Linked DNA regions of Homo sapiens: region 1 is linked to region 2. The links come from fine-mapping of genetic effects on plasma protein levels. A gene starts in region 2. The other region holds a variant in brackets. All regions are shown on one strand. Distances are between the middles of the regions.

What was found. A credible set is the group of variants that fine-mapping cannot tell apart. PIP is the posterior inclusion probability: the model's chance that the variant is causal. The UK Biobank Pharma Proteomics Project read protein levels with antibody pairs (Olink). The fine-mapping took linkage between variants from a reference panel, not from the people measured, so its PIPs are less certain.
Region 1: its variant is the best candidate, but not a certain one, in a credible set for the plasma level of the SNX15 protein (UK Biobank, PIP 0.73).

The regions. Positions count from the first base shown.
Region 1 is chr11:65,035,449-65,040,757 of GRCh38, forward strand. SNX15 (sorting nexin 15) reads left to right here. Exons shown (of 8, transcript NM_013306.5): 6 at 72-215; 7 at 3,124-3,381; 8 at 4,238-5,124. The coding sequence ends at 4,344. ARL2-SNX15 (ARL2-SNX15 readthrough (NMD candidate)) reads left to right here. Exons shown (of 11, transcript NR_037650.2): 9 at 72-215; 10 at 3,124-3,381; 11 at 4,238-5,124. Among named protein-coding and RNA genes, the nearest start is that of SAC3D1, 3.1 kb to the right of the region's middle. RefSeq lists enhancers at 3,362-3,411, 3,482-3,601. The variant G/A (reference allele first, on the strand shown) is at 4,216.
Region 2 is chr11:65,024,524-65,029,891 of GRCh38, forward strand. SNX15 (sorting nexin 15) reads left to right here and starts at 2,916. Exons shown (of 8, transcript NM_013306.5): 1 at 2,916-3,113. The coding sequence starts at 3,015. It overlaps ARL2-SNX15 (ARL2-SNX15 readthrough (NMD candidate)), which reads left to right. Exons shown (of 11, transcript NR_037650.2): 4 at 2,795-3,113. It also overlaps the pseudogene EEF1A1P18. RefSeq lists an enhancer at 2,734-3,028 and a silencer at 2,878-3,047.

The DNA.
Region 1 (5,309 bases), 11 kb after region 2:
AGAGAGTAATTCTATTTTGAAAGCTGAGAAATAAACGCAGGTATTCATGACCCCACTTATCTCTTCCTCAGTGGACCCCCCACCATCCAGCCCTGCCCAGGAGGCCCTGGATCTCCTCTTTAACTGTGAGAGCACCGAGGAGGCATCTGGTTCCCCTGCCCGAGGCCCCCTCACCGAGGCTGAGCTTGCCCTCTTCGACCCCTTCTCCAAGGAAGGTAATGAGCTGGGACAGCCGGGAAGGAGCCAGGGCAGGACGTCCTTGGGACAGGGAGGAGGGCAGAGCCCCACTAGCCTGCTCAGTGCCTGCGCAGATCAGGGAGAGACGTCTCCTCAGCAGTGCTGCCCTGTGGGCCAATAGCAGCTTCAATGAGAATTAGAAGCCCTGTGCCAGGGCACGTGGTGTGGTGTGCTGGATGCACCTGTGCAACAAATAGCCACGAGGAAGGAAAGGAGGCACTTCCCATGTTGGGGCCATCTCACTGAGAAGGCTTTGGAAAGAGCCGGGTCACACTGCTCTGGGACATTTTAGTTCCTTCCCTGCAAGCTCTTGGTGGGATTTCCTGACTGGCCAGGGTCTGGCTGCAGATCCTGAAGGCAAGAGGCCTGCTGGTCAATGGGAGTGAGTTCTCAGCTCAAAGGGCAGCTGCAAAGGGAAATCCCTCTGGGGGCCTGGAGCCACTGGCATTTGGGGATGCTGGAGGTAGAAGGGCCCCCCCAATGGAGGTCAGGGTCCTGGGCACCTTCTTGCTGTGAGATCCTGGGACTCGACAGTCCCAAGCTCTGAGACACTGGAGTTTTTCATTCTAAAATTTGCCAACGCCTGGCACATTGGCTCACACCTGTAATCTCGACACTTTGGGAGGCTGAGGCAGGAAGATTGCTTGAGCCCAGGAATTCAAGACCAGCCTGGGCAATATAGCAAGAGTCCATGTCTGTTATTCTTTTTCTTTTTTTGAGACAGAGTCTCACTTTGTCGCCCAGTCTGGAGTACAGTGGCGCAATCTCTGCTCACTGCAACCTCCCAGGTCCAAGCGATTCTCCTGCCTCAGCCTCCTGAGTAGCTGCGACTACAGGCGCGCACCACGGTGCCTGCTAATTTTGTATTTTTAGTCGAGATGGGATTTTTCCATGTTGGTCAGGCTGGTCTCAAACTCCCGACCTCAGGTGGTGCGCCCGCCTCAGCCTCTGAAAGTGCTGGGATTACGGATGTGAGCCACCGCGCTTGGCCCGTTTTTTTTTTTGAGATCGAGTCTTGCTCTGGATTGCCGAGGCTGGAGTGCAGTGGCGCGATCTCAGCTCACTCCCACCTCCGCCTCCCGGATTCAAGCGATTCTCCTGCCTCAGCCTCCTGAGTGGCTGGGACTACAGGCGCGCGCCACCACGCCTGGCTAATTTTTGTATTTTGAGTAGAGACAGGGTCGCACCATTTTGGTCAGGCTGGTCTCAAACTCCTGACACTCAAGTGATCCACCTGCCTCCGCCTCCCAGAGTGCTGAGATTACGGGCGTGAGCCAAAATGCCCTGCCTCTTTCACTTTTCTTGTTCTGCCTCCTCCCGTTCCTGCTCCTGCCTCTCCAGGGTTGGGGAGTGGGAAGAAGGAATGGGAGGGAAAGGCAATGTTGGTGTCACAGGGCTGTTATGCCTGGCCTCTGGGTGGCAGGCATCCAAGTGCTCTGTCCTTGTGCCAGCTGAGTCCCTGCTGGGCAGCTAGCTGCCTGGGCAGGAGCTTTTCTATTTTTTTTCCTCTCCTTTTTAATTTTTTTATTTTTTTTTATTTATTTTTTGAGACAGAGTCTGGCTCTGTCACCAGGCTAGAGGGCAGTGGTGCGATCACGGCTCACTGCAGCCTCCAACTCCTAGGCTTAAGCGATCCTCCCACCTCAGCCTCCCAAATAGCTGGGACAGGACCACAGGCATGCACCATCATGCCCAGCTAAGTTTTTGATTTTTTGTAGAGATGAGATCTCACTATGTTGCCCAGGCTGGTCTCAAGCTCCTGGACTCAAGTAGTCCTCCCACCTCAGCCTCCCAAAGTGCTGGATCATAGGCATGAGTGACTGTGTCCAGCCAGGATCTTTTCAAGACCCTTCACAGACAGCTCCAATGAGACATTCACTCAGCCCATGGGAAAAGTCCCCAAAGCCTGGAACTGCAGTGTGCTCAGACACTGCCTTATTTCCCTACCCTGCCATGGTGGGCACCTCCAACAAGCCTCTCACCACCAGAATTCTCGAGGCAAGGAGTGGGCACCTGTGTCTCCCTTCTTCACAGCAAACTCCTTAACTCGAGTGTGCAGGTGTCCCAGGTACTCTTCTGCTCTCTGCTCCCTGAGCAATACATGGAGGGCTGTAGGCCCAGCCAGGAGGTGCCTTCTCCCTCCTGCAGGAGGCCCGGACTTCTCAGGGCTCTCATGGAACTCACAGGGATGGGGTTAGAGAGGCACCCACTTTTTCCCTCTCCAGGATGATAGGGTATCATGATGCTTCCTGCCCCCGCACCTTCCCCTCAGAGGCCTTTTCACCAAAGGTGCACCAGATTTCCAGTCGCCTCGTGTGTAAGCTGCAGGTAGGATGTCCGACCCCCTTTTAGCCAGTCCAGGGGGATATAATGAGCCTTTACCTGGGAAATGTGAGGACACCTGTCACTCACTGTCTTTACATTTGGGGGCCTCAGCTGAAACTGCAAGGCTTCAGAAAACCCCTGAGATTCTCTAAGTCTCCTATTCTAAGATTATTCCAAGTCTTGGAGCATTTCTACCCTCAGCCTGGTGGTGGTGGCCTAGCATCCTTCAGGGAAACTTTCTGGAGGGGATTTTTGGATTTCTAGGTCAACTGGAGTCAAGAGGGAAATAGGACCAGTGACCCAGAGCTTACAAACTAGAGTGTGTACCTAAAGACATAATTAGGAAGGTAAGGCTGTTTTTACAGAAGCACATGAACCCTATCGATCAAATAGCTCATGGCTAGTTTTTGATCCACAGACGACTTCTGGATTGCTCTGGCATTGGTCCCCTCTACTGGGGACAGGCTGATACCCTGATGGACAAAAGAAGTCTTGGGGTTGGGCAGAGGGCCTGGGAAAGGAAGGGCCAGTCTGGTCCGAGTCCTCCCTTTCTAACTGCAGAAGGCGCAGCCCCCAGCCCCACCCATGTGGCTGAGCTGGCAACGATGGAGGTGGAGTCTGCAAGGCTGGACCAGGAACCCTGGGAGCCAGGAGGGCAGGAGGAGGAAGAGGATGGGGAAGGAGGGCCCACCCCTGCCTACCTAAGCCAGGCCACAGAGCTCATCACCCAGGCCCTGCGGGATGAGAAGGCAGGCGCTTACGCTGCTGCACTCCAGGGCTATCGAGACGGCGTGCACGTCTTGCTTCAGGGAGTCCCCAGTGAGTAGGGACTGAGGGTGGAGGGTCAGGCCTGGGTCCCAGGTGGGGCAGTGATGAAGGGAGCAAAAAAACAAGCAAATCACGGATCAGGAGCCCTTTTACTCCTCACTGACCAGCTGTGTAACCTGGGCAGATTTTTGTTTCTGTTTTTTTGTTGTTGTTGTTTTTAACCTCTTGTGGCCTCAGTTTTCTTCTTCCTCTTTTTTTTTTTTTTTTTTTGAGACAGAGTCTTGCTCTTGTTGCAGGCTGGAGTGCACAATCTCGGCTCACTGCAACCTCCGCCCCCCAGGTTCAAGTGATTCTACTGCCTCAGCCTCCCGACTAGCTGGGATTACAGGCGCCCACCACCATGCCTGGCTAATTTTTGAATTTTTATTTTTTATTTATTTTTATTTATTTATTTTTATTTTTTGAGACAGAGTCTCGCTCTGTCGCCCAGGCTGGAGTGCAGTGGCACAATCTTGGCTCACTGCAACCTCCACCTCCCAGGTTCAAGCCATTCTCCTGCCTCAGCCTCCTGAGTAGCTGGGATTACAGGCACGTGCCACCACGCCCAGCGAATTTTTGTAGTTTTAGTAGAGATGGGCTTTCACCATGTTGGTCAGGCTGGTCTCGAACCCCTGACCTCGTGATCCACCCACCTCGGCCTCCCAAAGTGCTGGGATTACAGGCGTGAGCCACCGCGCCCAGCATGGCCTCAGTTTTCTTATTTGTAGACTGAGGAGAATGGATGCTGGGCCCCAGAGAGGAGGGAAAAGCACATGGTGATGCTCTGCGAATTGTAAAGGACCCGACCAGGGGTTCTGACCAGGCCAGTGGTGCCCAGGTGCCTCA[G/A]CTGAGCATTCTCTCTCCACAGGTGACCCGTTGCCTGCCCGCCAGGAAGGTGTGAAGAAGAAGGCAGCTGAGTACCTGAAGCGGGCAGAGGAGATCCTGCGCCTGCACCTGTCTCAACTCCCACCCTAACAGGGAGTGGGCCATTCCCTGGGACTCTCGCTCCTGCACTGCCAGCCCCTTCTCCTCTCCCCAGGGCCTGGCCCTACCTCCTGGTCTTGTAATTACAGGAGCCATTTCTGTAGGTAACTGGACCAAGAATGAGAAAAATAATGAATTCTTAGCTCCCTGATTACACCTGCCACCTTGGAATCAAGGACTCACACTTCTGACCCTGCCTGTCTTTTTGGGGTTTTTTTGAGTTGGAGTCTCGCTGTGTCGCCCAGACTGGAGTGCAGTGGTGGGATCGCGGCTCACTGCAACCTCCACCTCCCAGGTTCAAGCAGTTCTCCTGTCTCAGCCTCCCCAGTAGCTGAGATTGCAGGCACATGCCACCACGCCCAGCTAATATTTTGTATTTTCAGTAGGGACGGGGTTACACCATGTTGGCCAGGCTGGTCTCGAACTCCTGACCTCAAGTGATCCACCCGCCTCAGTCTCCCAAAGTGCTGAGATTACAGGCATGAGTCACTACGCCCGGCCCATGTCTGTCTGTCTTGATGTGTGAGCAGCAGCTGTGGTCATTAAACCATTAGTTTACCCCTCTAGAACTGGGGTCTGCAAACTCCCACCTGCAGCCAAATCTGGCCCACCTCCTTTTTAATGTAAGGGCTGTGAGAGTGGTTTTTACTTTTTTTAATGATTAAAAAAATCAAAATAATATTCTGTGACAATGACAGGTGAAATTTATATGTGACAAGTGAAAATTATATGAAATTTAAGAGTCCATAAATAAAATTTGTTGGAACACAACCAGGCTAATTCATTTAGTATTGTGATAGCTGCTTTCGCGCTACACTGGCAGTTGAAACAGTTGCAGAGTTGAGTCTTTGCCGCCTGCAAATCCCAAAACATTTACAACCTGGCCCTTTGCAGAAAACATTTGCTGGCCCCTGAGCTAGAAAATAGGGAGCATAGTCTCAGGGAAATAGAGGACA
Region 2 (5,368 bases):
CTACACTGTTCTAAGTACTACCCATTCCATTCAGCAATACAGTTAGGGACAGCCCTATGCAGTGCCGCCTATCAGGATCCTCTCTTATATGGGACACTAAGGGGTGGCACTGGCGTGGCACTGTACAGAGAGCTCAGGTGCCCCGGGGAACAGATAAGCTCTCCCAGGGGCCGGGGAGGCTTCCTGGATGGGCTGACCCTTGAGCAGGGAGGGAAGGGTCTGCGGTCACTGGCCACCACCAGCACCTTTGTTCTCCCAAGCCCTGCATCTGGACTCTCTGCAGCCACCACTGGTACGTCAAGGGCTGCAGCCCCACTGCTGGGGAGAACCCACTGCCTGGCATTGACTGGCTCCTGGATGACATTTCCTCCAGAAGGTTAAGTGCAATCTCTGCCTGCCGGGTTCAAGCAACTCTCCTGCCCCATTCTCCCGAGTAGCTGGGATTATAGGCACCCGACACCACACCTGGCTAATTTTTGTATTTTTAGTAGAGATGGGGTTTCATCATGTTGGCCAGGCTGGTCTTGAACTCCTGATATCAAGTAATCCGCCCGACTTGGCCTCCCAAAGTGCTGGGATTACAGGCATGAGCCACTGCACCTGGCCCCCAGCTAATTTTTAAATTTCTCATGAAATCAGAGGCAGCCTGTTGCCCAGGCTGGTCTTGAACTCCTGGCCTCAAGTGATCCTCCCGCCTTGGCTTCCCAAAGTGCTGGGATTACAGGCATGAGCCCCATGCCAGGCTTTGCTTCTTTCTGAAGACCAAGGCACCGCACCTGTACACCTGAATTCCAGGAACAAGAGTGGCTATTCACAATGCTTCCTCTGCAGTAAATACTATGTGTTGTATGTAAGCCTACCAACTTCATGCTGCATTTCAACAGATTTTTGCTTCAATTCTAACACTGACTGGAGCAAAGGTCTCAAAACCCATGCCAGGTTTGGGAACACCAGTCTCCACGTGGCCCACACTGACAGTACCAATACCACCAATTTTGTGGACGTCTGGAGGGGCAGAACCAAGAGCTTGTGAGTTGGTGGTAGGATGTGATCTAGAGCTTCCGAGCAGCGTGGTTCCACAGCATCGCCATCTTTACAGGTGACTTTCCATCCCTTGAGCCAAGGCATGTGAGCTCTTGGCTCCCGCCTGTTGTGACCACTCCAACCAGATATTGGCACAAATACTACTATGTCAGAGTTGTAGCCAATTTCTTAATGTAGGTGCTGATTTCCTTAATGATTTCTCCCATCTCTCCTTTTTTTTTTTTTTTTTTTTTTGAGACGGAGTCTCACTCTGTCCTCTGTCTCCCAGGCTGGAGTGCAGTGGCACGATCTCAGCTCACTGCAACCTCTGCCTCCTGGTTTCAGGCAATTCTCTGCCTCAGCCTCCCAAGTAGCTGGGATTACAGGCACCCGCCACCATGCCCAGCTAATTTTTGTATTTTTAGTAGAGACGGGGTTTCACCATCTTGGTCAGGCTGGTCTTGAACTCCTGACTTCCTAATCCACCCACCTCTGCCTCCCAAACTGCTGGGATTACAGGCGTGAGCCACCACGCCCGGCCCCCATCTCTCCTCTTTAGGGTGGCTCATTGGGATCCATTTTGTTAACACCAACAATTAGTTTCACACCCAGCGTGTAAGACAGAAGGGTGTGCTCACGCGTCTGCCCATTCTTGGAATTACCAGCTTCAAATTCATCAACACCAGCAGCAACAATCAGGACAGCACAATTAGCCTGAGGTCAGGTTTTTGATAAAGTCTCTGCATCCTGGGCCATTGAGGATGGTCACATAGTACTTGCTGGTCTCAATTGCCAGCAGGGAGGTATCAGTGGTGATACCACTCTCACGTTCAACTTTCAGCTTACCCAAGACCCAGGTATGCTTGAAGGAGCCCTTTCCCATCTCAGCAGCTTCCTCAAAATTGTCGATGGTTCTTTTGTGGATCCCACCACACTTGTAGATCAGATGGCCAGTAGTGCTGGACTTGCCCAAATCAGATGATGATGTTGAGCTGAGTCTTTTCCCTCCCCTGCTCCCTTTCTTTTGAGATGGAGTCTCACTCTGTTGCCCAGGCTGGAGTGCAGTGGTGTGATTGCAGCTCACTGCAGCCTCAACCTCCTGGGCTGAAGCCATCAGCCAGCTCAGCCCCTGGAGTAGCTGGAATTACAGGCGTGCGCCACCACGCCCAGCTAATTTTTGTATTTTTAGTAGAAACGGGGTTTCACCATGTTGGCCAGGCTGGTCTTGAACTCCTGACCTCAAGTGATCCACCTGCCTCCACTGCCCAAAATGCTGGGATTACAGGCGTGAACCACCGCGCCAAACCCCCATTTTGGCTTTGATTTAACGGTGGTTTTCACGACACCTGTGTTCTGGCAGCAAACCCATCGCAAAAAAGCTCCACTGCCCTACACAGATTCTATTATAAACATCTCCATTCTACAGATGAGAAACTGAGGCTGAGTAGTTAAGGGAAACTCCTACAGCTAGTAAGAGTCGTGACTCAGAGCCCATGACACCATCCTGCTTCTCCAACCTTCTTTGCTTCCTCTACTTTCCAGAAAACATGAATTAGGGAATCCTGTGGAGGGAGACAGGGAAATAATTTGACGTTGTCCTGTACATACTGGACACAATAAGAGTTGGGTGGATGAACGAAAGCAGGGATTTAGGAAGCGGGGAGAAGTCGTTTGGAAGTCTGTGACAAGGGTTTACGCTTGGATAGGGTGGGCTTGATCACCCGGCAGAAATGAGACGAGTGATCCCAGCCTTCCCAACCAATCTTTCCAGTGACCTGGGTTTACGCTTCACCACAGAGAAGGAACTTTTCAGACGCTCCCTTGGCCGCGCACCCGGGATCGGAACAGCGCTGTCACTTGCGACAAAATCCCTAGGCCAGAGGAAGAAGAGCGCAGGCCTGGCGAGGCGGCGGCGGGCGGAGGCTGGGCCGGAGGGGTGGGGACGGCGAGGAGGTGGAGGCCGGCGCTCCGCTCCGCTCCAGCTCGGTTTCATGTCCCGCCAGGCGAAGGATGACTTCCTGCGGCACTACACAGTGTCGGACCCCAGGACTCACCCCAAGGGCTACACCGAGTACAAAGTAACCGCGCAGGTGAGGTGGGGCCCAGCGCGTACTTTACCCTTTTAACTAGAGGGGCGCCGAGTTTTACCTTAAGGAAAGGCGGTGCAGCCACTGCTCCCTTTTTAGACGACAGAAATGGGTTTCCCCTTTAAGGGGAGGTTGCAGTACGAGGCTTAGTTTACATCTTTAACCACCAGGGGGCGGGGTCCTGGGTGGGCGCTGTCTTTTTTAAAAGGGCGTTGACGGCCGTTCCCGGACAGGCAAGGCGTGTATGCCCACGCCCGGAGTGTAGTGTCTGGGCATCAGGCTGTGAATTTCTCTAAATTAACATGAAAACTCTGGTTTAATCCAAATATTAGTACTCCATTCTCGTAGAGTAAGTTTTGTTTATTGGTTTGTTTGATGTTACATAAACTCCCTTTAACGAGTTTAACCATTTTTAATTTTTCAAAAAATAATACTGATCAGTGGTTGAAAAAAATTGATGCAGTTCAGAAGGACTTAAGGAGTAAGTCGCCATATCAAGGTCACAGCAGGAAGATAGATAGGCTAGAGTTGATATATGAAGCGATAACAACATCATAAGCACAATTTATAGAGAGACATGGAGGAAACCATGACAATAATTAAAAATGAAACAGTAAAACAGGACACCTGTAGAATGATAACAAGAACTGGTAACAAGGAAGGTCCCCAGGGAGAGGAACTGTGTCACTGGGGACAGGAGTTAGGGGAAGACTTTTTACTGTAAATTTTTTGTACTTTTAGAATTTTCAACCAGGCGACTATTAAGCTGGTGCATTAGTTAACTCTAAAAGCAAAGCAGGCACATAAGGACACTTCCAAAGTGATCTAAGTGCAGAATCTTAGCTATTTAAAATATGCTTTCCCCAAACCGTTTACGTCTTTTCCATGCCTAAAAATAATGCAAATAAGGCCGGGCTCAGTGGCTCATGCCTGTAAATCCCAGCACTTTGGGAGGCTGAGGCAGCAGATTGCTTGAGCTCAGGAGCTCAAGACGAGCCTGGGCAACATAGTGAGACCCCGGATCAATATTAAAATACAGACACACACACAACTTTAAAAAAAAAAAAAAAAAAAGCAAATAAATAGATTGTCCCTGGGAAGATAGACTGGAGGTGGGGCTGGGGTGGGGAGGATGTGGCAAGGAACTGTAACCTTTTATTATAAGTCTTCCCAGTGGTGGCCGGGCGCGGTGGCTCACGCCTGTAATCCCAGCACTTTGGGAGGCCGAGGCGGGCGGATCACGAGGTCAGGAGATCGAGACCATCCTGGCTACCATGGTGAAACCCCATCTCTACTAAAAATACAAAAACTTACGGGCGTGGCAGCGTGCACCTGTAGTCCCAGGTACTCGGGAGGCTGAGGTAGAAGAATGGAGTGAACCCGGGAGGTGGAGCTTGCAGTGAGCCGAGATTGTGCCACTGCACTCCAGCCTGGGAGACAGAGCGAGACTCCGTCTCAAAAATATAAATAAATAAATAAATAAATAAATAAATAAAAATAAGTCTTCCCAGTGGCTTTTTTGTGTCGTTGTTTTGTTTTGTTTTTGAGACAGAGTCTCACTGTCGCCCAGACTGGAGTGAAGTGACTCGATCTCAGCTCACTGCAAACTTCCGTCGCCCGGGTTCAGATTCTCCCACCTCAACCTCCCAGGTAGCTGGGACTACAGGCACGCGTCACCATGCCCAGCTAATATTCGTATTTTTTGGCAGAGATGGGGTTTCACCATGTTGGCCAGAATGGTCTCGATCTCTTGACCTCATGATCCACCCGCCTTGGCCTCCCAAAGTGCTGGGATTACAGGTGTGAGCCACCACACCCGGCCTCCCATTGGCTTTTTAAACCAAGCAACATGCATTACTTTGATATATTTTTATACATATTATATAATACAATGTATTATATATAATAAATATAAAATATAAAGCACATAATATATAAATATATGTATGTATATATTTTTTGAGACGGAGTCTTGCTCTGTCGCCCAGGCTGGAGTACAGTGGTGTGATCTCAGCTCACTGTAGCCTCCACCTCCTGGGTTCATGCAGTTCTCCTGCTTCAGCCTCCTGAGTAGCTGGGATTATAGGCGTGTGCCACCACACCCGGCTACTTTTTGTGTTTTTAGTAGAGACGGGATTTCACTGTGTTGGCCAGGCTGGTCTCGAACTCCTGACCTCAAGTTATCCTCCCACCTCGGCCTTCCCAAGTGCTGGAATTACAGGTGTGAACCACCGCGCCTGGCCTATATTTTTATTTTA